Regions from separate parts of the Homo sapiens genome. Here regions 1 and 3 are each linked to region 2. Evidence: fine-mapped expression QTL. A gene starts in region 2. Each other region holds a variant in brackets. All regions are shown on one strand. Distances are between the middles of the regions. Region 1 overlaps LOC102724877. Region 2 holds the start of HES1 (hes family bHLH transcription factor 1). Region 3 has its middle 32 kb from the start of HES1.

What was found.
Region 1: its variant is fine-mapped to the expression of HES1 in whole blood (TOPMed, PIP above 0.99).
Region 3: its variant is fine-mapped to the expression of HES1 in whole blood (TOPMed, PIP above 0.99).

Annotation. Positions count from the first base shown.
Region 1 is chr3:194,104,623-194,112,803 of GRCh38, forward strand. It overlaps LOC102724877, which reads left to right. Exons shown (of 6, transcript XR_002959666.2): 5 at 4,233-4,359. Among named protein-coding and RNA genes, the nearest start is that of HES1, 27 kb to the right of the region's middle. The variant C/A (reference allele first, on the strand shown) is at 4,804.
Region 2 is chr3:194,131,789-194,139,969 of GRCh38, forward strand. HES1 (hes family bHLH transcription factor 1) reads left to right here and starts at 4,360. Exons shown (of 4, transcript NM_005524.4): 1 at 4,360-4,700; 2 at 4,829-4,924; 3 at 5,173-5,260; 4 at 5,895-6,944. The coding sequence starts at 4,593. The coding sequence ends at 6,445. RefSeq lists silencers at 2,438-2,717, 2,788-3,327, 6,054-6,253 and enhancers at 4,318-5,517, 4,327-4,486, 6,284-6,473.
Region 3 is chr3:194,164,389-194,172,569 of GRCh38, forward strand. No RefSeq gene overlaps it. Among named protein-coding and RNA genes, the nearest start is that of HES1, 32 kb to the left of the region's middle. The variant A/C (reference allele first, on the strand shown) is at 3,694.

The DNA.
Region 1 (8,181 bases), 27 kb before region 2:
CTGGAGCAGCCAGTTGCAGAGGGCCAGCCACAGCAGAGCAGAAAGGAGCTCTGAGAACAGATTCCTCCAGGGGCTTCTGTCTCCAGGACACCCTTTGGTACAAGACAAAGCAAACCTCAGAGGGGAACACTCAACTGCTGCTGGTGGATCCACATCTAATCCTTCTGACATCCAAAAGGAGCTAGTCTTGGTTTCCTTCTCGTGCATGCTTTGTGTCCCTGTCTAACCTCCTACCAGTGTCCTGTCCCCACAGTCCTCAGTCCCAGCCCCCTCTCCTGTCCGCTTCCCATGAGCAGCTTAACTAGCTGCTCTGTGCCGATTCTCTTCTGTTTTCCCAACGGAGGAACTTTGCACAGTGCTGGGCACATGGTGAGTACTCAGTAAATATTTAGTAAATATAATAAAAGTCAATTGATGTTAGCTCCAGCTCTAAGACATGTTAGTTCATTGTGTTAATCATAATTTTGTTTATAGGCGGGGCCAGAGAAGCCTCCTGAGATGCAGGTGTAGCAAAAATGCTGAAAATAACGTGGACCAAATCTCTGCAATACTGGCCCATTAATAAAGATGGTGAATGAAAGGAATGGAATATTTCAGTTATGTCCAATTCCAGTTCTAATTCCAATGGCACAGTGATGAATCCCAAAAAAGAAGCCAACATATCCTGGATACTAACGATCTAATCTGGATATGCAGACTCCTTCCAGAAGCTCCGTCACTGGCATCTCTGCTACCATCTTCCCTCTTTGGACTTCCCAATCCTCTCTGCACACTAGCGCTCAGCACGGTGGATCTCTCTACTTGTATTATGTCACACCCTTGCTCAAAAGCCTTCAGTGGTTTCCCCTGCATAAAATCTGCACCACCCGGCTCTCAGGGACCTTGTGGGTCTGGTTTGGCCTCAGCTCAACACCGCAGTTTTCCACTTCTCTCCAGAGCAACTGCTTCCCTCCGCTTTGGTCAAACTGGTTTCCTTACCCAACTCAGACAGCATACAATAGGGAGTGGGAGTAACGATAAAATTTGTAGCCAAAAAAGTCAGGTGTGAGTCTCAGATTCACCATCGGATCTCTCTGAGTCTAGTTCCTCAAGGGTAAAATGGAGATGATAATTATGTTCACTTTGTAGAGTCGGCATGAGGATTTTGTGATGTAATGGATGTTAAAGGACTTTACAAACTGTAAAGGGCCGAAGGACAGTTGTTCATCTCTAGCCATGGATTATTCCCAACTCCAGCATTGTCTTTGATCTCACGACTCACTTTCCCTTGCCCTTCTCCATATCTTACACCCACTCAAACCCAACTCCAGCCCTGCCACCCGTAGAAAGCCGTACCTGATCCCTCCAGTTCTCACTGATCCTGGCTTTTAAAGTCATGCCCATAAAGCATCTTGATTTGCTCACTGTATCTTACGCATGTCCGCCTTAGAACTCCAAGTTTATGATTATTTACCTACAGATGATATAAACATTCAGGTTGCTTACAATGAAAAAGTAAGTACATCTATAATAGCAAAGGTCAAGATAAAAAAGTGAAAAATCAGAAATGTCATTTTTTTTGCTAAGGTGTATTAGCTTGCTAGAGCTGCCATTCCAAAACACCATAGACTAGGTGGCTTAAACAACAGAAATGGATTTTCTCACAGTTCTGGAGGCTGGAAGGCCAAGATCAGGGTGCCAGCATGGTGGGCTTCTGGTAAGGGCTTTCTCCCTGGCTTGTAGACAGCCGACTTGACTTCTAGTTATGGCCTCACATGGCAGAGAGAGAGAGTGTGTGTGTGGGCAAGATGTCTAATTTCTCTTCTTTCTTCTTATAAAGGTGCTAATCCCATCATGAAGGCACCACCCTTAGGAATTCATCTAAACCTAATTACCTCCCAAAGGCCTCATCTCTAAATACTGTCACATTCAGGGTTCGGGTTTCAACATATGAATTTAGGGAGGGGCACAATTCAGTCTGTTGCAGGGAAAAAAAGGACAATTATGTCCCCTTTTAAGGGACTGGTTAAGTGGCTACTGCAGCTAAGTATCCTTGGAGGATAATCTTCATTTCCTCTTCTTCACATTTCTATACAGGGGAGACTTGCTCTCCCCAGAATATGAAGTAGGAGGGTTGGAGTGAGCCTTTCCCCTCTCTCTCCCTTTGGGGAGAAGGAATAACTAATGGGTGACCCGTAGGTGTTCACGGAGTAAGGGGCACCAGGAGACAGTCACTGCCTTTTGCTCCTTTGGGCTCCTCAGAGCAGAGCAGACACCTGCTTTCCAGCCTCTCTTGACTTCTGTGATAAGCCGCCTGCTCGGGGAATTGCCCCTCTCTGCCACCCACCACCACTACCAAACAGGATGGTCACTATTCTCCTGCTGCTTCTACTCCACTGGTTTTCTAGAAACAGGCCCATAATCTTTCCCTTGTAGTAGCTTGAAAAAGTGGACTCACAGTCTGCATGGCAGAACATGCCGATCCCAAAGCCTAGCTCAGGGAGGAAGTATGAGATCCCACCCCCTCTCCCAATACAGTGGTTAGAAGAGAGCCCTGACATTTTGGAAGCTTACTTGCCATCTGATATGGTTTGGCTGTGTCCCCACCAAAATCTCATCTTGAATTGTAGTTTCCATAATCCCCACATGTCATGGGAGGACCTGGTGGGAGGTAATTGAGTCATGGGGGCAGTTTCCACCATGCTGTTCTCATGACAGTGACTGAGTCCTCATGAGAGCTTATGATTTTATAAGGGGCTTCCCCCTTCACCTGGCACTCATTCTCCCTCCTGCCGCCCTGTGGAAAGATGCCTTCCACCATGATTTTGAGTTTCCTGAGGTCTCTCAGCCATGCAGAACTGTGAATAAATTAAACCTCTTTTCTTTATTTCTATTTTTAATTTTTTTTTTTTTTTTTTTTTTTTTTTGAGACGGAGTCTCGCTCTGTCGCCCAGGCTGCAGTGCAGTGGCAAAATCTCAGCTCACTGCAACCTCCGCCTCCAAGGTTCAAGTGATTCTCCTGCCTCAGCCTCCCGAGTAGCTGGGATTCCAGGTGCCCACCACCATGCCCGGCTAATTTTTGTATTTTTAGTAGAGACAGGGTTTCGCCATGTTGGCCAGGCTGGTCTCGAACTCCTGACCTCAGGTGATCGACCCGACTTGACCTCCCAAAGTGCTGGGATTACAGGCATGAGCCACCATGCCCGGCCCCTCTTTTCTTTATAAATGACCCAGTCTCAGACATCTCTTCATAGCAGTGTGAGAACAGACTAATACACCATCAATCCAGCTGATGCTCTGAAGTGCCTTTGGCCAATGGTCTTGAGCCTATTCTCAGTCACCCCTAAAGGGAAGGAGAGATGGCTTTAGACAATCCAGCAAGCACCAGTGTGAACTATGAGCTTCTTGATAGCCAAATATCACTGACAAAAAGTGGAAATATGGCTAACATGAAAGAGAAAGAAGACTATGGCCTGATAGAAGGGATGTTGAGTAACATAGTGAATGGGGTCCTCAAGGATGGCTTAGCAGAAGACATCAAGATGGCCAGCTTTTGTAATAGTGTGTAATAAAAACTAAGGGCAAGGTATTTGTTATTCAGTGTGAGAGATCTGGATTAATACCATTCAAACCTCTTGCTTTCTGCTGACCCAATCAGATATAAGGAAAAGGCTTAATTCATTGTCTCAATCATGTTCGGGGCAGGAAAGAAATATCAGACAATTTAAAATTAACCTTGTACACGACCATAACCATGAGAATAAAAACTCTTGTGACTCTTTGGAAAGTAATTTTACAATATTTATTGAGAGTCTTAATTATGCCCTTCTCCTTAACTAGAAATTCCAATTCTGTAAATTTATCCTAAGAAAAATAAAATGTTAAAAGTTTAGATTGTTAAATACATTAGGAAAATCATGGTACATAAATGATGAAAAATTATGCGGTCATTTGAAATGAAACTTATGAGGAATTTATGTTGCTGTAATGTTATATGACAAAAGCATGTAATAAGTTATATACAATGTATATATTGTACATACAGTGATCATAATCATGTAAAATCATAAAGAAAAGTTAGAAAAAGGGCAAATAATGAGAGTAGTTATCTTCTTTCACCTTATCTGTATTTGTCTATTTTTTTCCAGTAAGCATACATTATTTAGAATTGAAAATAAAATAAACTATAATTATATATATCATATATCTTATATATCATATATATGATATATATATATCTCTTCATACTTTAGATACCAGCCTGGAAGACAACGGAGCTGTCATTCTGTTAAAAAATTAAGAGAAGTACGCAGAACCTGCCTTTTTCTAAATGAGAAGCTTTGGAAGCGACTGGACACTTTTGGCCATTGCAGTCCACAGGTAGCCTCTCTGGGGGCAATAGACAGACTTTTTCACTTCTTGTATTTACTCCCCAAATGCTTGATTACATAGCTTGTCACCTGTCAGGGGGGCCAGCTAGCTAGTTGCTGGGTTGAGTGGTTAATCCAATGATTTGTATAGCTGGCTCACTAAGGAAATCATAGGTACTCAATATATAGCTACTGAACAATTCAATGAATGATTGAATTAGTTATCATTTAACCTATTGGCTGGGAAGTGCTGAAAGAATTCAAACCCTCTTAATATGCTTCAAGTCCAGCCTGCACTCTCTACCTTCAGGGATCCCTGCTGGGCCACTTGGCCCTTGCTCCTTTCTCCAGCAGAAATCATCCCCCCTGTACCCCTTTCTCCACTCCCACATTCCCTTATGGCCTGGTACAGACCACTGCTGTATTATCTGAGTCATTAGCATAGCCCTGATGC[C/A]ATTTGTTTATTTGTCTGACTTCCTCACTTGACTCTGAGCTCTCTGCAACAAGGTTTTGCATGTTGTTCAATTTAAAAAATCTGCCTCTAAGGTTATAAGCAGAGCCCAGGACATATCTATTCAACATGACATTTCATAGGGGTTCAGCAAATGTTTGCAAACAAACAAAAAAGGAATGCAGGACAAGGATATTTTGAGTACCAATGAGCCATCCAGCCCTGAGCTAGGTTCAGTCTCTGAAGGCATGAAGAAGGAACCACAGGAGAATTAACATAACTCTCACCACGCTTCATTGCAATCCATCGTTTACTTGTTTCTTTTCACCTGTAGATTATAAATGTCATGAAGACAGGGGCTGTGTCTGTCTTATTCACCTAACTAACCACAGCAACTCACACCATGCCATGGAAGGCACTCAAAAATTTTATGTTGAAGCGATAAGTGGATGGCAAAGGCACCCCAATTTTCAGGATTGATTTCCTCCAACTGTAATTAGTCACTGAGCAAAACAGCCCAGGCTGGAGTGCAGTGGTAGGATTATGGCTCACTGCAGCCTCGACATCCTGGACTTAAGTGATCCTCTCATCACAACCTCTGGAATAGCTGCAACTACAGGTGTGTACCACCACGACTAGTTAATTTATATTTATTTATTTATTTATTTATTTATTTATTTATTTATTTATTGAGAGAGACAGAGATCTCATTTTGTTGCTCAGATTGGTCTCAAACTCCTAGCTTCAAGCAATCCTCCTACCTCGGCCTCCCAAAGAGCTAGGTGTGAGCCACTGTGCCTGGCCCTCTTGCTTTCTTATTGAGAGCCAAGTATAGTTGGAGACTGGTGGAGGTTTTCTCTCCCCAGCAGAAGGTTACCTGGAGACTTTGGCAAGAGCCACAGCAGTTCCTAAAAGGAAAAGAAACCTCAAAGGAGAATGTTAATCTCCCCGATCAGGTAAATGAGCAACAACAGGTAACAAATAATTCACCCCAGTGATCCCTCAGAATTGCATGCCTGTCTTTAAATCTCCTTATACAAGCTGACTTCCTTAGAAAAAGCAGGTAAAATCAGAAAGCAAGAAAGCAAGGAAGGAAGGGAAGGGAAGGGGAAGGGAAGGGAAGGGAAGGGAAGGGAACGGAAGGGAAGGGAAGGGGAGGGAAGGGAAGGGGAGGGAAGGGTACGGAAGGGAAGGGAAGGGAAAAGAGAGAGTCCTTAAATTCTTGAGACAAATTGCAGTGGTAGGATTATGGCTCTATCTTGACATTTTGCAAAACTACATCCGAGCCTATCCTTTGCTCAGCTCTACGTCAGCCAAAGCCTCAGTTATAAATAAATTCACAAATATACGGAACGCTGGGCCTCGCCCCAAGGCCAACGTTCCTCGTTCATGTGTGCATTCACCAGCTCCAGCTCTCCCTGGAAACATCCTTTTCTATGTAACAGCCTAAATCATCCTAAAGAGGACATTCTCCAACATTAGCATACCTAACAATCAACACGGAGATTTCCAGGACCTGTTCCAGAAACACGGATTCAGTAGGTTTAGGGTGGAAGTTTGGAATCTGCCTTTTAACCAACTCCCTGCTATGGACTGAATTGTTTCACCCCAAAATTCATATATTGAAGCCCTCACCCCTAATGTGATGGCATTTGAAGATGGGGCCTTTGGGAGGTCATTATGTTTAGATGAGGTCGTGAGGAAGGGAGCCCCATGATGGATGGGATTAGTGCCCTCATAAGAAGACATGCCAGAGAGCTCTCTCTACTCTCAAGTACCCAGGAAAGGCCATAACAAGACACAGCCAGAAGACAGCTATCTGCAAGCCAGGAAGCGCCCTCACCAAACAGACACGGACCCTGCTAGCACCTTGCTCTTGGGCATTCAGCCTCCAGAATTGGGAGACGATCAATTCCTGCTGTGAAGGTATTTTATTAAGGCAGCCAAAGCTGACTGAGATACTTCCCCGATCACTGTGATGTCCAGTGCCGAGGGCCTATGCTTTGAAAATCAATATTCTAGTCTTAGGCCAAAACTCTCCTCCCTGCTTCCCCAGCCACTCCTTGAGCTTTCTTCTTCCTCATGGCCCTCTCGGCCATCTGGACAGGCTTCTTCCTGGATACAAGTCACATGAATGTCACTGACCTGTGACTTTGTCTTTGTTTCCTGAGTGCATCACACAGTACATGGCCTACGGCAGGCATTCAGAAAATATTGATTTCATGAATGAATAGGTGAATGAATGAGTGAGCAAATGAATGAATTTATATCACATAGAATAATTAACTTCCCTTTTAGTATCTCCCTAATCCTTCCAACTCTAACTTGAGGAAGCTATGACTTGCTTTCAAGATCATTTTCCAGGCCTGGCGCGGTGGCTCACGCCTGTAATCCCAGCACTTTGGGAGGCTGAGGCAGGTGGATCACCTGAAGTCAGGAGTTCAAGACCAGCCTTGCCAACATGGTGAAACCCTGTCTCTACTTAAAATACAAAAATTTGGCAGGCTTGGTGGCCGGCGCCTGTAATCCCAGCTACTTGGGAGGCTGAGGCAGGAGAATTGCTTGGACCCACAAGGCGGAGGTTGCAGTGAGCTGAGATCACACCACTGCACTCCAGCCTGGGCAACAAGAGCAAAACTCTGTCTGAAAAATGAATAAATAAATAAATAATAGGATTATTTTGCATCCATTCTATTGTTTTGTGGGAATCTTTCACAGTCATTGCCTGGGAATCCAGTGATGAAAAGTGGCCCACAAATACAATCTAATGGAGGCCCTCAGGTTATTCACTAAAGCTCAGAGAAGATCATTTTCCAATCAGAGACATCCACAAGTGGAATGGTGCTAGAATCTTCCCTCCCCTGCAGGAAAGCCCTGGTCAGCCAGGTCAGATGTGGGCAGATGGTTTGCTCTTCTCCACCGAGTACTGAGTGAAGCCTTGGGCTGGAAATCCAGGTAGGGAGGTTAAGGACAAATTTGGAATTAAAACACAATAAGCCCCTTCATTCCTTCCCCATTCACATCCTCCATTCTTAAGGCTGGGAAAAAAAAAAAAAAAAAAGACCCCTTACTTCCTCATGCAAGACTGCCCCCAGGCTTAATCAGAGCCTTAACTGCTGTCTTTGGCTGTGTTGTAAGCACAGTGACAATGATCAGGTTAGGTGTTTAGAACAGTATGATGTCAGTCGGGCTTGTGATGAAAGAGTCGCTGACAGACAGTGCAAGCCAACACCATGAGAACAGCTCAGGCTATGAGGTCATTCAGTCCAACAGGTAGGCAGGTTTGTTTTCTTAGCCCTGACATTCGATGCCCTGCCGGTTATTGAATAACCAGAAATGAGGCGACTCCTACAAATTCCTGGATCTCCATGGGGATGGAGA
Region 2 (8,181 bases):
GTCATCTGTGAGCCCATCTGCAAGAAACTCTTCTTGAATGGTTAGAGTGGAAAGCCAGAGAGTTCCTGGAATTTATTTTTATTTATTATTTATTTATTTTTGGTCCAGACACAAATTCATAATTTTTTTTGTTACTTGAGCCTCTGTCCCCCTATCTAAAAACGTGTGTGTGAAAGTTACTTGCCCATTCCACCAGTCCAAGCACTCCCAAAGTGGCAATAAACGAGTTGCTGATTAACTATTTGACCCACGAGGCTGCTTTAGCCCCTTCAGTGAGACCCTAACTTGACCATATTCCATTCCCCATGCACCTTCAGGGCACCAAATAAGAGTGGGGAACAGAATCAGATGAAAAAGTCTCTTAGAATGGGCAGGGAGTGGCATAACCCAGTAGTTAATGAGGGCCGACCAGCAGACAGCAGTCAATGTCATGGCAGAGCCTGGCAGAGCCTAGCAGAGCAGGCACTGGTTCTGAAAGATTTGGGGGGAACCTGGAAAGGGTTAACATGCTTCCCCGGGAAGGGTTTAGTTCCTCAGAAGAATCTGGGTCAGTGTATTTGGGAAGTTTTTAAAAAGTCAGACGCTCAGTAGAAGCATTTTAAGAAGCTTGCAAAGCTTATTGGGGCCATGGCAGAAAGGAGGGTAACTTCATAGGCTCATCACCTTTCACCAAGAGGATTTTCACCACACAGGAAAACCCTACGTTTTCCAAAAGCAACAGACAATTTTCTGTCATCACCACTTTTCCATCTGTTTAAAATAAGAAAGAAAATTCCTTCCCCTTTGGCCCAGGTTGCAGGTCAACAAAGGAGGCATTGTTCATCATTTCTTCAGAACATGACAGGGCACAGCTCACTCTGCAGTGTAAGAAAACATTTTTTAAAAAAAATCTCAGAGTAGCCTTAGGGGCAACAGTGAGTAAACCAAAGCCTTCGATGAGGGAAATGTTTGGTTGCAGACTGGAGGACTATCCTGGAAGGTGGAAATGAGGCTTAGGTTAATACGGTCAGAGCCATGATTCCTTAGTTAGACTCAGGAATTAAATCTGAGTTCCTGAGTTCCTGGTTGGGGGTTGGGAACACTGCATTAAAGGGTAGGCAGGTTTGAGTTGAACTCAGTTCCCAAGAGCGTGCGGTCAATGTCCAGAGGAGCTGGATGTAGACAGATGCCTCTGGGAGTCAGTCTGCACCTGCCTCCTAGGAACCTTCTTCACTGGCTTGAACTGCCTAACTGCCCTTTCTGCCTCCAAGCCCTGCAATCCACTCTCCCACTTTTGCCAGAGCCATCTTTCTAAAGGGAAACCCTGATGCCTCTTCTTTGCTCAAGAATGTTTCATGGCTCTCCACTGTCTAAAGATAAGGTCCAAAGTCCTTCAGCAAGATGTTTAAGGAGCTTGTGACATGGCCTCAAGCTGCCTCTTCCAGTCCCTCACATTCCCTAGGCTCCAGACCATGTTCCCTGAATAAAGTCTTCAAGTTCCAGGATCTTGGCCTTTAATACCATGGGTACCTGCATCCTCTCCAGCCCACGACTAAGCACATTCCCAATGCCCCAATCCTACCTATTTTTCAAGGTACACAGGCCAATCCCTCCAGGAAGTTTTCCAAGGTACCCCAACTTAAAAGTAACTTAATTCTCCTGAAACTCCATAGCATTTTACCTCTATCCAGACATACGTCTCTCTTGAACCTACGACTTCCCAGAGGAATTTACTGGGCCATCCGTAGATGTCAGCTGTACACGTTTATATGTATCTCTAGACTGTTAGCTTCCAGAGAGCAATAACGGTCTTACTCACTGCTGTAAACCCAGGTAGACCAGCAATACTGTTATCCATACAAGTATGGTTTCATATTTTGTTTCTGTCCTCCTGATCTCTCAAGCCACCACCTAACTCAGAAAAGAAAGGAAAAATAAAGGAATGTCCAGTCATCAATCAGAAAATCAGCGTCTGTCTGCCCCCGCAGTTTACTGTCAACTTCTAGCAGGCCGCCACTGTATCTCTCACCGTGGAAATCCCAGGGTTTAACACAGTGTCTGACACTGCGCGTGTGTTCCACAATGAAAGAGAGAGGGGGGCTTGCCCAAGGTCACCCAGAGTCAGGAACCACTGAATCTCATCCGGGACGAGATCTGGCGAAATCATTGACAACGTTATCTCAGTGGGGAGCTGGGAGGCCGGAAGGAATGAAGTGTCTGAGAACCGTGCGCCAGGCCTCCGGGACGCGGGAAGGGCTGAGGGGGCGGGAGGCCACATCAAACAAGACGCTGGGCTCCCGGGCTGCCCGGAGCCGCGAGCCGAGCTCCCAGGCGGCGGGAAGGGCGGAGGGGGGGTGGGGGCACGGGGGCCGGCGACCCGGGCAGGCGGGAGGGAGGCGGAGGAGGCGGCCGGCCGGCCCAGGCAGTGCGCGCCGCCCGCCCGGCTCGGCAAATCCCCCAGGGAGGCCGCCGCCAGAGCCCTGGCGCTCCCGGCCCGGCGCCCGCCACGTGGCACCCGGCGGCGGCGGCGGCGACTCCTCCCGGCGCGCGGCCCGGCCAGCAGGCAGCACGCAGCCGCCCGCGCCGCCCGCCTCCTCCCGGGCGCCCGCCGGCGGCCTCCCGGGCGTAGTGAGGGGGAGCGGCCCGGCCGCCCGGGACCCGGGGAAGGGGCGGGCGGCGCGAAGCCGCTTTAACCGCAGTCGCCGAGCGGAGGCAGGAGGCTGACCCGGCCGCTTCCTAAGTGCGGTCAGGCATCCCGTGACCGCGGCGGGCGCCCAGGGCCCCGCGGGGAGAGGGCGGGGGCGAGGAGCAAACTTGGAGGCCCCCACCTCGCCCCCGGGCTGTTGCGAATGCGGCTTTCGGCCGAGTGAAAACCCCAAGCCCGAAAGTGAGGGTGGGGAGGCGGGGGTTGGAAGAATTCCCCACTCTCCACCCCGGGTGTGCGCTCCCCGCCGGGAAGAGCTGACCTTGGCCTGGGGAGGCGGGGGTGGGGAGAGAGGGTAAGCGCCGGGGCTCGGCTCCCAGCCCGCCGCCCCCTCGGATTCCTGGCCCGGCGGGGCCGGAGGAGGGGGCCCCGGACACACACACACACACACCCCCCACACGCAGCGCGCGCCAATGAGCCCGGGCCAGGCGCAGGGGGCGGGGTTTTCCCAGGCTCGAGCACAGCAGCTGCTATTTACCTTCTTGGCTTCTCCCGGGGACCAGGAACCGGCCCCCGCTCTCCGCCGCCCGTCGCCGCCCCCCGCCTCCCTGCCCCCGGGGCGCGCGCACACACACTCACTCACACACGCACGCACACACACATCCTCCCGGCCCGGCCGCAGCCGCGGCGGCAATAAAACATCCTGGCACGTGCTCCGGCTCCAGGCGCGCCCACGCCGGCCGGCTGATGTCAAACTGCAGCTCGGCTGGTGTAGCTCTTAAAGGGCCCGCGGGCGCCGGGGGCCGAGGCCGCCCGCGGGGCGAGGAGGGAGAGGCTGCTTCCTTGCCCGCCACCTCAACGCGCCGCAGAACCTAAAGCCTACGGATGAAAAGGGAAAGGGTGGTGAAGGAGGGCGCGAGTCCCTGAGTCATTGCCCTCGGAGCCCCCCTTGTTCATTTTTTCATTTGAAATACCGTTTCCTTCCACCCAGTTGGAAATTATTCTGATTGTTTCCTGGGGAAGCCCGGGGTCTAAGGCCCCAAATCCAAACGAGGAATTTCTGAAAGACGGGGTGGGGGTGGGATTCAAGAACTACCTTGCTCCGAAAAACCTGCATTTGTGAGGTAGAAGGCAATTTTTCCTTTTTCTGCATGGAAACAGGAAAATTTTTTTGGCCCTTTTCCTTTACCATCTACTTTCACCCTCCTGAATGTAAAGTCTGAGCGGGAACTTTAGATGTGTCGGTAACTCACATTCTTACACCCGTCCCCCCCTCCCCCCGCCCCCTTTTAACCACTGCTGTTTTTTTCTTTATTGTTTATACCTTTAAAAAAAATATGTTTCAAATGAACTTACTACAGTCAAAGCAGCTCTGTTACATATGAGAGAGGGCATAAAGAGCAAAGACCCTGGCTCCAAAAGAAATAGACAAGATCAAGACCAAAGCGGAAAGAAAAAAAAAATCTCTAAACCAAAGCCCAGAGGGAGAGTAGCAAAGGGTTAAAATCCTTTTGATTGACGTTGTAGCCTCCGGTGCCCTGGGCTCAGGCGCGCGCCATTGGCCGCCAGACCTTGTGCCTGGCGGCCAATGGGGGGGCGCGGTCCACGAGCGGTGCCGCGTGTCTCCTCCTCCCATTGGCTGAAAGTTACTGTGGGAAAGAAAGTTTGGGAAGTTTCACACGAGCCGTTCGCGTGCAGTCCCAGATATATATAGAGGCCGCCAGGGCCTAGGGATCACACAGGATCCGGAGCTGGTGCTGATAACAGCGGAATCCCCCGTCTACCTCTCTCCTTGGTCCTGGAACAGCGCTACTGATCACCAAGTAGCCACAAAATATAATAAACCCTCAGCACTTGCTCAGTAGTTTTGTGAAAGTCTCAAGTAAAAGAGACACAAACAAAAAATTCTTTTTCGTGAAGAACTCCAAAAATAAAATTCTCTAGAGATAAAAAAAAAAAAAAAAGGAAAATGCCAGCTGATATAATGGAGAAAAATTCCTCGTCCCCGGTGGCTGCTACCCCAGCCAGTGTCAACACGACACCGGATAAACCAAAGACAGCATCTGAGCACAGAAAGGTAAGGGCGGTACCTGTATCTCTTTGCAGCCCCTCAAAATTAAGTAGGGGTTGGGGGGCTTCTTTCTGTCTTGAAACCCCGGGATGGCAGATTCCATGGGAACACAGAACTCTTTTTTTTATTTGCAGTCATCAAAGCCTATTATGGAGAAAAGACGAAGAGCAAGAATAAATGAAAGTCTGAGCCAGCTGAAAACACTGATTTTGGATGCTCTGAAGAAAGATGTAAGTGGGGAAATGCTGCTCGCTCTTTTAATTAAAAAACAAACACTTTCTCAGCTACTAAGAGTGAAACCCCCCGCCCTGCGGGGTCTGGCACTCGCTGGTACTGCGTTCTCCCAGGCGGGAGGGCCCGGCCTTATTCGCTGGGGTCCAGAGATAATGCTTGCGCTCCGTGGCCGGGAGGAGGGACCCCCAGCACTCTGAAGCAGCTGACACGGGGCTCACTTTCCTTTCTTGCCTACTCTATGCAGAGCTCGCGGCATTCCAAGCTGGAGAAGGCGGACATTCTGGAAATGACAGTGAAGCACCTCCGGAACCTGCAGCGGGCGCAGATGACGGGTGAGGGCGGCTCGCCGCGTCCCCCTGTGCGGGCGTCCCGCTCGCCTCGCGGTGATTTCTTCCAGACTTCCGCCCGTGGTTGTGAGAGGCATTCAGCTACATTTTACTGCCTTGGCTCACTCTTGCGTTCCCACGGTCTGGGGCTTATTTATAGCCACAACTCCAAGTTGTTACTGTTCCGGAAAGGGAGGGAAAGAGGTTGCAGCCGCGAGGGTGGCGGGCGCCGGGTAGGGGCGAAAGGACTTAGGACTGTGGCGGTTTGGAACTGCGTGGAGCCTGGGGGTCACTGGTTTAGCACTCCTTCCCGTTGCAGAAGGGGAAATGAGGCTTGGATGATGGATTGGGAGGCATTGTCCAAGGTCACATCGCGCGCGGGGGTGGGGGTGACAGATCTGGGGCTGAGATAGGTTTAAATGCAGCTACAGGGAATCGGGAAGGAGTGGCTCGGCTTTTGGCAGCAACGCTAGTGTGGAGAGGTGGCTGGTTTTTTCTAAACCCATCTCACCCTCCCTGCCGGAGGCAGTTTCACGGGCGCATGGTCAGGGAGGCGCGCCACAGGGACCTCCCAGGGCGGAGGCAGTGGCCACGGGGCCAGGGCCGTTCGGTGACCCGTCTGTCTCTTTCTGGCCCGCAGCTGCGCTGAGCACAGACCCAAGTGTGCTGGGGAAGTACCGAGCCGGCTTCAGCGAGTGCATGAACGAGGTGACCCGCTTCCTGTCCACGTGCGAGGGCGTTAATACCGAGGTGCGCACTCGGCTGCTCGGCCACCTGGCCAACTGCATGACCCAGATCAATGCCATGACCTACCCCGGGCAGCCGCACCCCGCCTTGCAGGCGCCGCCACCGCCCCCACCGGGACCCGGCGGCCCCCAGCACGCGCCGTTCGCGCCGCCGCCGCCACTCGTGCCCATCCCCGGGGGCGCGGCGCCCCCTCCCGGCGGCGCCCCCTGCAAGCTGGGCAGCCAGGCTGGAGAGGCGGCTAAGGTGTTTGGAGGCTTCCAGGTGGTACCGGCTCCCGATGGCCAGTTTGCTTTCCTCATTCCCAACGGGGCCTTCGCGCACAGCGGCCCTGTCATCCCCGTCTACACCAGCAACAGCGGCACCTCCGTGGGCCCCAACGCAGTGTCACCTTCCAGCGGCCCCTCGCTTACGGCGGACTCCATGTGGAGGCCGTGGCGGAACTGAGGGGGCTCAGGCCACCCCTCCTCCTAAACTCCCCAACCCACCTCTCTTCCCTCCGGACTCTAAACAGGAACTTGAATACTGGGAGAGAAGAGGACTTTTTTGATTAAGTGGTTACTTTGTGTTTTTTTAATTTCTAAGAAGTTACTTTTTGTAGAGAGAGCTGTATTAAGTGACTGACCATGCACTATATTTGTATATATTTTATATGTTCATATTGGATTGCGCCTTTGTATTATAAAAGCTCAGATGACATTTCGTTTTTTACACGAGATTTCTTTTTTATGTGATGCCAAAGATGTTTGAAAATGCTCTTAAAATATCTTCCTTTGGGGAAGTTTATTTGAGAAAATATAATAAAAGAAAAAAGTAAAGGCTTTTATGTCTTCGAACTGATTCTTCCAGAATATGTAAAAAGGCTTTTGGTGGAATTTGAATTACATGTAATTGGTAATTCAGGAATTGACTCTTTTGTTATTAAAAGAACATTTGTAAAAATCCATCAAACTTTTCACCAATCCTCCATGAACTAAAAAGACTAAATTCCATTTACTTTACAAGCAGCCATCTGGTAAGGCTTCCCTGATAAACTTGTGGTCAGTCTCTTAAAGGATTTCCAAAAAAAATGTTTTTAAGTTGCAGTCGGGTAAGTCTGCAGCCCTTGTTCTTCTAGCTCCTCCTGAGGAAGATTGAACAGGACTAAATTCACGAAGCTAATGGATCCAATCCTATTGCCCATTGCACGTTAAGGGTGGTTCCTGCAGCTCTCCTCTCAGGGTAGCTCACCAGCATCCAAAGCAAAAACACTTCCAACTGCTGCGCCTCCTTCAAGACTTGGGGTCTTCATTAATTAGCCAATCCTTTGGTTCAAATAAGACGTTCCCTAGCACCCAAAAGTTTCCTCTCCGCACCCTCTTAAAGCAAGCTGAAAAGGTCAACAGATTCCTTCTGCCAAGGGACAGTTAGTTAGACTCCCAAGTGGAGGCCGAGCCCAGATGATTAACACCAGACATGTGTTTTTGATAAGTTTCTGTGCTTGGCTCTAATAGAGAAAGCATGTGGGGGCTGTGCTGGCAGGCACACAGGCCATCTTCCCCTTTTAATACAAACAGCAAGCGACCCCTTCGCTTGGTCATGCCCCATTTCCAGGCAAGATGTGGGCTCCAGATAGAAGCAAAAGGGTTGTCTCGGGTTTCAGCTCACATAACCCTCCTTAACAAGTCCTAACTCAAAGCGGACAGCTTTAAACTGTGCCAGGATCTGCAGGGAATTTCTTCCAAATCCCATCACAAAGGCTTGTCAGATTTTGTCAGATTTGGCCAGGTGTTTGACTGCATCCAGGTGTTGGGGAAATGAAAACCACGAGCCCTGCGAGACCAGACACATCAGCCGCGCTGTGGGTCTGGCGGGCGCGCCCTCCTCCCCCACCGCCGGCCAGTCCTCCTCCCCCCCGGCCCCTCCCGCCAGCCTCCTCTAACCCCCCTTTTCTTAGACCGGCTTCTGGGAGGAGAAGGATGAGGCGGGAGAGATCAATCTTTGAAGCTTTCCTAACAAAGATAAAGCCAACGATTTTCTGTCTTGTTTCAAAAGCTTTACCTCTCCCCCGCCCTGCTCTGGCCTTTCCCACAGGCCAGTGTGGAGAGCGGCTCTATCATAGGAATGATCGGGGAGACAGCAGTTTTCCACTCAAGATACCTTCGGACCCAGCTTCCACCCCAGAGGGAGAGATTTAAAAGAGA
Region 3 (8,181 bases), 33 kb after region 2:
TGTCTCTGAATCGTCTTGCTAAGGAACTGAACACTGGTGTGGTTTAAAATACAGCCTTGTAAAGGGCGTCTGCATTAAGTTCAGCATCAATATAGTGAACTTCTGGGAGAGGGGGACCACCAGGTCGCCCTAGGAGAGGTGAATCTGCCCAGATTGGAAATGGAGAGATCAAAACGTTCATGCTGATCAGTAGCGAGATTGTTCCTGTGAATAGCCACTGCACTCCAGCCTGGGCAACATAGCAAACCCCATCCCTTAAAAAAAATTAAGACCTTCTCTTCAAAAGACACTGCCTTGAGAATAAAAAACTTTGGAGAAAAAGAAAATAAATGGAGAAAATATTAGCAAATCACAAATCTGATAAGGGAATTGTATCCGGATTATATGAAGAACTTGCAAACTCAATAATAAAAAAAGCAAACCAATTAAAAAATGGACAAAAGATTTCAACAGACCCTTCATCCCAAAATAATATGATGGCAAATAAGCACATGAAAAGATGTATACCATTGGTCATTTGGAAAATGCAATTGAAATCATAATGAGATACGAACCCACCACACACACACACCAGACTGTTTAAAACTGAAAAGACTAACCATGCCAAGCATTGGCAAAGATGTGAAGTAACTAGAATTCTCACATACCGCCGGTTGGAATATAAAATGGTACAAACTATTTCAAGAAATGATTTCTGAAGAAGTTAAACATATGCCTAACATGTGATCCAGCCGTTTCATTCATAGGTATTTACCCAAGAGAACTGAAAGCATATGTCGATACAAAAGACTTGTACATAAAATATTCAAGGCAGCTTTATTTGTAACAGTCAAAAACTGGAACAATGCAAATGTCTATCAATAAGTGAATGGATAAACAAAGTGTGATATTATCCATCCGATGGATTACTATGTAGGAATACAATGAAATAAACTACAGATAAATGCAACAACATGGATGGATCTCAAAATAATTATGCTCAGTAAAAAAGGCCAGAAAAAGAAGAATATGTCCTCTATGACTCCGTTCTTTTACAATTCTCCAAAATGCAAACTAATCTACAATGACATAAGGCAAATTAGCTGTTGCCTAGAGACTGGGGGAGGGAAGATAGGGTGCCAGAGAGGCAGAAAGGATCCTAAAGGGATGTGAGGAAACTTTTGAGGGAAGGGATATATCCACTGTTTTGATTGTGGTGAGGGTTTTACAGTTGTACACATAGGCCAAACTTATCACTTGCATACTTTATGTGCAGTTTATTTCATGCCAATCACACCTCAATAAAATTTAATATTAAAAAATAGATGTAGTATGTCATCTAGGAGCTCAGAGTCATGGTCTCGCTAAAGAGACGCTACTCAAAGAGAAAGAGAAGGGTTTTTGTCTGCATGTTTGTTTTGTTTCAACATCATCTAGCCCAGCATTGCCCACAATCGTCACTCAACATCCGGCCCGACTAACTTACAAGGCACTGCTGTCCTTACAAGTGTCCACACCTGCCATTTGATCATCTGGGTGAGAGGAGGGGGTCAATATCTATCTAAGTCTAATTTCCTGAGGCTTGTATCAGTTGCTTCTGAACTGTAAGTGGCCCTTTGGGGTAGAATTGAAAGACTGGTCCACAGGACCTTAGAGCTAGAGGAGTCCTAGGGGTCTTCTGGTCCCACCTCCATCCAGTGCAGCATTTAATCCACTGTACCTTGGAGTAACCTCCATCTAGTCTCTGACAATGTCTCCTGGGAAACTCCTAGTATTCACCAAAAGTCAAGAAACTAGCTGCATTCCAATGGGAAGAAGCCAGGGTAGGAGAAGAGGAAGTAAGAGAGCTGTCCCTGAAACCCACCAGGATCTTTATCCCTCCTTTCAATGAGGTTCCTTAGGAATCTCACAGTGGGAGGAAATCAATATCTTTCAATAGACCAGTGCATTTCCTTTGACCTGTGAAGGAGGGCTGGGGAGAAGGGGAAATGAAAGGATTTGATAAATGAGACACATTTGCCAACAGATTCTTTTTTAAAAAAAAAAAGAAAAAAAAAAAGCACTTCTGACTGGTTGGGCTAATTCAGTTTGGTTGGAGTGGTGTGTATGTTAGCTCTGACATACTTTGGGAACATCTTTTAATGTTTCATTGCCTTTGCTTTCATAATTGTGTGCATTTAGGACCAAGAGCCTGGGTTTCTTCCTTCTGATTAGCAACAAGATTCCTCACAGCTTTAGGGGTCTAGGGAAAGAAAATAAAAAAAGCCCTGCATAGCCAGACCAGGACTGTATCCTTTCTGCTGCTCCTTCACACCTTTTCAAGCTTGGTGATTTCAGCTACTTCTCCAAATGTAATAATCTTTTAAACTGTCTACATTCAATCTGTTCCCAGGCAGGAGCTTAAACTACCCGCCCGCTCGCCCGCCCCCCGCTTTGGAAGTTTATCGGACAGATCTACAGAGGCTTTTCAGGGAGGATGTTTACAAAGGACTTTTAGTGTTGCCAAGAAAAGAGAGAGAAGGGGAATGATGGGATTTCTGTAGGGCAGTTTCAGAGGTAGTGAGATTTTAACATAAAAAGGACCTTTCTTTACCTCCTAACACGTCCAAAGGCAGATGGCAACAGGGGCCAACAGCGTCCTTGTGGGCGGGGTCCCTCCTAATCACTGGAGCCAGTGGAGTTTTCCTGTTACGTTAGAGTCTTGGGCTCACTTATTACAGCTGGAACCATCCCAGAGATGAGAGCCTGTAGCTCCACGCTGCCCCACTCCTCTGCTTCCTGTAGAGTCCCTTTCTCTCATGGGGAAGGGAAGGAGCTTCTTAAAACGTAATGCTGTGCTTCATAACACTCGTAGCTATAATACATAACTGCTGCAATAACCATGTAAGAAAAAATGTGTTTTCTTTGGGGAGGGGGAAATTCTAGAACATGCCAATCACCACATCTAATAAATCATGTGACGAAAGCACAGGGCATTTTGAATATAAGTTCGGTAATATCAGAATGATTTTGAAGTTGTGTGTCTGTTAAGGTGTTTACAACTCCGAAAGTCCTAATTGTAATAAATTTAAATGCATTTGGTATTTGGTTTATTAAGCTTGGATTCATTATGTGAGACATTTCCCCCCCGTATTCAAACATACATCAATACAGAGCTAGCTCTGGAGAACAACTTTACTTAACAAATCACTTTAGAAGCTTTTTTTTTTTAAACATCCCAGAAAAATACTGCTGCAGCCAGACTTGGGAAACAATTTTTTTTTCTGATAAGGATGACATCATTTTATCCTAGTAAAAGCTGAGTTTTCATCATCATAATTAAGCAGGAGAGAAATGATTCCCCGTGAACTGCATGACAAGCTGTGTAACTGTAGTTAATTTTAATGAACAAGCTCCATTTTTGAATTGTTAATCTCCATTTCTTTCATTTTAGTCAAGACTAAAACTTAATGAATTTCAACAATGAGTTTCCCCCTCCCCTTTCAATGAACTCTTACATTTCAAGTACCTTAGAGAGGAGAAAATGAATTTATCTCATTTTTTTGAAGCTGAAGTCTTCAATTGTAAGAAGAAAGACTCTTCATTCATGGCAGCGTCTCTGTGTGATGAAAAAGAAAAATCTAAAAGAGACCTTCTAAAGAAAGTCCACTGCAAAGTGAGTGGGAGGTAGAGCTGTGTGTTGGGAGGAAGGGGAAGAGGTTGACGTTCAGCCGG[A/C]AATTTCTACAGGGGTTCAATACATAGGGAAGCCTTCAAGTTATGTAATATATTAGCATGAAGAAATCCTGGGCACCAAGTTTTATATTTCATGGCACTGTTGTCAGCAGAACAAACACACACATTTTTTTTTTGTTTTAATAAACAATTTTTAGAGCAGTTTTAGTCTCACTGTATTGTGTGTGTTTTTTTTAAAGAAGAAAAAACATGTGTCTCAACACATTGCCAAGAAAGAGCTTCCAGAACAAAGAGCAGCAGTAAGATAATTATTGAATATCAAACAAAATCCTGGAGCAGGCTTAACTGACCAGGTTACTTCCACCCACCACTGGGTGGTAGCATGACTGAAACCTTCATTCCCAGGTAAATCCTCAAATCTCCCCCATTCTCCGCAGGTCACTGATGTCCCTGTTTGGGGTGTGTGTGTGTGTGTGTGTGTGTGTGTGTGTGTGTGTGTGAGTGTGAGTGTGTGTGTGTCTTTTGAATCACTAGAATGCTGTCCCGATTGAATGTGATCTGCAGCCATCATGACAGAAGGTATTGTTCTGACCTTTTCAATCAACAGTTTTCAATCTAGGGCACACAGAGGTGGCTTAGACGGAGGTCACCACAGGGCATGTGGCCTGAACTATGGTCCTAGGCTTGAGTTTTAGGACACCACAGGATATGCATAATCAGCAAAAGGAAATGAAATGAAAGTTTCCCTGTTAAACTTCAATCATGCACGTACGTCCTCTCCACAGCCCCACTGCAAAGGAAAAATTTAGGGTCGCCTGGTGTAGAGGGTCCCAACCTTCACTGCCTAGAACCCTTCTGGGCTACAAGTTTTAAAAGATCTTTGCCCACCAATAGGTTACTTTTATTAAATAATAATTCCATTTCTCATTTTTCATTAATCACAACTAGTCCCAACAGCAGCTACCTTTTATCGAAGGCTCACCGTAGACCTACCCCAACAGCACCCTGAGGTTCAGATTCTTGTCCTTACTTTACAGGTGAAAGCATCGAAGTTCACAGAGATCAAGTAGTTCCATCAAAGCCACTCTGCTAGGAAGCAGATGAGCACAGGCTTGACCCCAGATCTGTCTGCTGTCAAAACCCAGGCAATGAATCACAGTTCTATTTGGCCAGGCAGACCTTCTTGTTTGCATGAGGTAGTCCCCAGGGTTACCACACAGCCAAAAGCAAAGCAAGGAGGCATCTTCATCAGACTGTGCCACCCATATCCAGGCAAATGAAGGATTGCCATGAAGCTTTTTGAAATATTGAAAATTGCTCATAGACCCATTCTCTTTCTGTGGGTTCAGAGATAGATAATTGCTCGCTATAGCCCAGTCTCTCACTTACAAGACAAGGACACAGAGAACAGGGCTCCCAGCCCTCCTCCACCGTTAGAGACCCTTGGGAAAGGAGAAATCGTAGCTGGGCTTAGGGAAGACATTGCTCTATTCTTTACTTTTCTCCAATGCGAAATTACTTTCCCTGGAATTCTATTCCTCACTGCCTGAGAAGTAAAGGCTTCAGCCTCAACTAACAAATATCAGAGAATTATGTTTTTTTAAAAATGTCTTCGGTTGAATGATGTTACCAGTATGTGACCTGACGTCTCCAAGATTTTGGAGATCCCACATGCTGACCGCTTCTGGCCACTCCAAAACAATCTGGGAACAAAATCTGCCGGCCAAGCAATACAAAGAGCAAGCTGGGTCATCCGTCATCAGCAGACACCCTGACGCGTGCTCCCTCACACTGCAGAGGTGGGGGTGGCCTGGAAGAAGGGGTGCATTTCAACAGATCTTACTGGGATCGAAAACATAAATTAGTACTCAATCGGCTTTGAGATAAGTCCATTTTGAAAATAACATTTGAGAAGCACCGTGAACCCAGCTTCTCTCTTGGCTGAAAGGGCCCAGGAGCTCAAATTTCTGTTGACTGTGAAAGGCTGGGGGCTGCCCGGAGCCTATTTGTCTCTGTGCCCCCACGGTGCCTAATGTACAACTTGGCAGACTGCAGTATTAAGGAAATACTGGCTTTATTACTAAAAATAAAGCCCAGAAACTCCAGGGTTGGCAAGGCGGAGGGATGGGGGTTTGGGGAGGACACTGGGAGAACCCTCTTTCTGTATCTAGGATCCCCTTCTCCTGGGAGTCTTCTGAAGCCCACCACTCCCACCTTCATGGTGGTCTCAGGGAAGGGTGATACTTCCTCTTACAGGCTGGCTCCAGTGACCTTCCAGGTGCGGTCTGGAGCCTGCTGAGGGGAGGCAAGCATATTTAAAAAAAAAAAAGATTCCAGCAAGGAAATAAGAAGCCACAGAGGGAGGCGACTGAGAGACCCAGTGAATGTTGACAAGCTGGCTTTAAAATGGGGCTTACTTGTCATCCACCATGGGGCACCATGAACCTTGAGAAGCTGGCTTTAAAATGGGGCTTACTTGTCATCCACCGTGGGGCACCATGAACCTTGAGAAGCTGGCTTTAAAATGGGGCTTACAGATGATCCGCTGTGGGGCACCATGGGCCCTTTCACTGCCTCTGTGTGGAAGAGGACATATCTCACCCATATCCCCCAGCAGGGCTACCTTAGACCCCTACAGTTCTTCATGCCCGCTGGCCAAAGACACCCCTCACAAGTGATTCAGAAATTCTACAAACATGACAGTAAGCCTATATTTTTATAATACAGTTAGAAATGTTTTTTAAAAGGAAACAAGAAATAATATGCATGCTAATTGAATTATATTGCATTATTAAGACATGAGAAACCAATACCCTAGAAATCTATAACTCATTTTAGGGCTGACTTCAGAGCAAAAAGTTTATTCTCTCCATATACTTGAGAAGCGCCCTGGACTGCAATGCTACCCTCAGATAACTTTCTATTTGCAACCTGGAAAGGAAGCAACAAAACAAATGCAGATGTTTATCAGATGCAGAGGCTGATAAGATAGCAACTATCTCCCACTTCTACAATTTCAAAATGTCGTTAGTCAAAACAAACAACCTCCTGTTGAAATGTTAATAAATGTTATAAATTTGAACATACAAAATAAAGTTATGCCAGCTAAATATCACTTATATATATATATATTTATAGAGTTCCACATTAAACTTCATTTTTCCAAAAGACTTCTGTGTCTGAAAGTTCAAAAGCCCCTCTCTAGATTATTAAAGAGAGGTTGAGCCTTTTCACCTGTTCCCCAGCACCCTGAAACCTACCTACCTACAGATGTGTCCTCACCCTCGTAGCATGGTATAGGAAAATGCATTTCAATGCAGTTTGACCCAGGAGATACAGTCTTGTGCCATGTAAGTGACAGTGGTCTCACAGGATTATGATAGAGCTGCCCTATACAGGCCCATCTTAATCCTTTAGACTGCACTTTTACTGTACTATTTTTGTGTTTAAATATGTTTAGATACACAAATACTTACCACTGTGTTACAACAGCCTACAGTACTCAATACGGTAACATACTATACAGATTTGTAGCCTAGGAGCAATAGGCTAGATCACATAGCCTACAAGTGTGGTAAGTTGTACCATCTAGGTTTGTGTAAGTACACTCTGTGACGTTCACACAACAATGGAATTGCCTAAGCACGCATTTCACAGAACGTGTCCTCGTTGTGAAGCATTGAATGAGTGTTTTTGAGCTGAAGCTTTGTTGGGTAGGAAGGGGAAAAGGGAGATGGAGGCCAATACAATGAACATCTCAGTTCATGCTCACTGAGCCCTTTGTTGACTCCCCACTTCTCTCCCTTATGATAATTTTCTTGGGTTTGAAGAACCATTATCCACCTTCTAAAGCCAAACAGTGTTATGAGTTGAGTCAAATATACACCTACAAACACTGAGGGAGGACAGTCTTTGGAAGCGCTTTGAAGAATCATCTTCTTATGCACAGCAGCCCTACTGACTGCTCGGATTACTGGTCAGCACGCCTGCACATCAGGGCCTAAGTCTATTTGGGCTGCTATAACCAAATGCCCCAGAGCAGGTGACATGTCAATAACACAAACTGATTTCTCACAATTCTTGAGGCTGGGAAGTCCAAGATCAAGGCACCATCAGATTCAGTGTCTGGGAAGGGCCTGCTTTCTAGTTCATAGATGGTACCTTCTCACTGTGTCTGCCCCGTCCATCAGAAAAATTCCCAAGAAATAGTGGAAAAAGAGAACTCTGATCTCTTCAGCCTTTTATAACAGCACAAATCCCTTCCAAAGACCCCACCTCCTAATGCCATCATATCACAGTGGCAATTAAGTGTCAACATACAAATTTGGGAGGGGCACAAACATCCAGCCCATAACAGGGCCAAAGGGCCCTTCTGAACAACTGTACCAACCCTGTCAGCAGTGGCAAATCCAACAGGCTTACAGCAAACTTGATTCTCGCCTCCCCGGAGGAAAGAATTCATCTAAGGGGCACAAGGGAGAGGGAGAGACCATGACAAGTTTTAGACCAGGAGTGAAAATTTATTAAAAA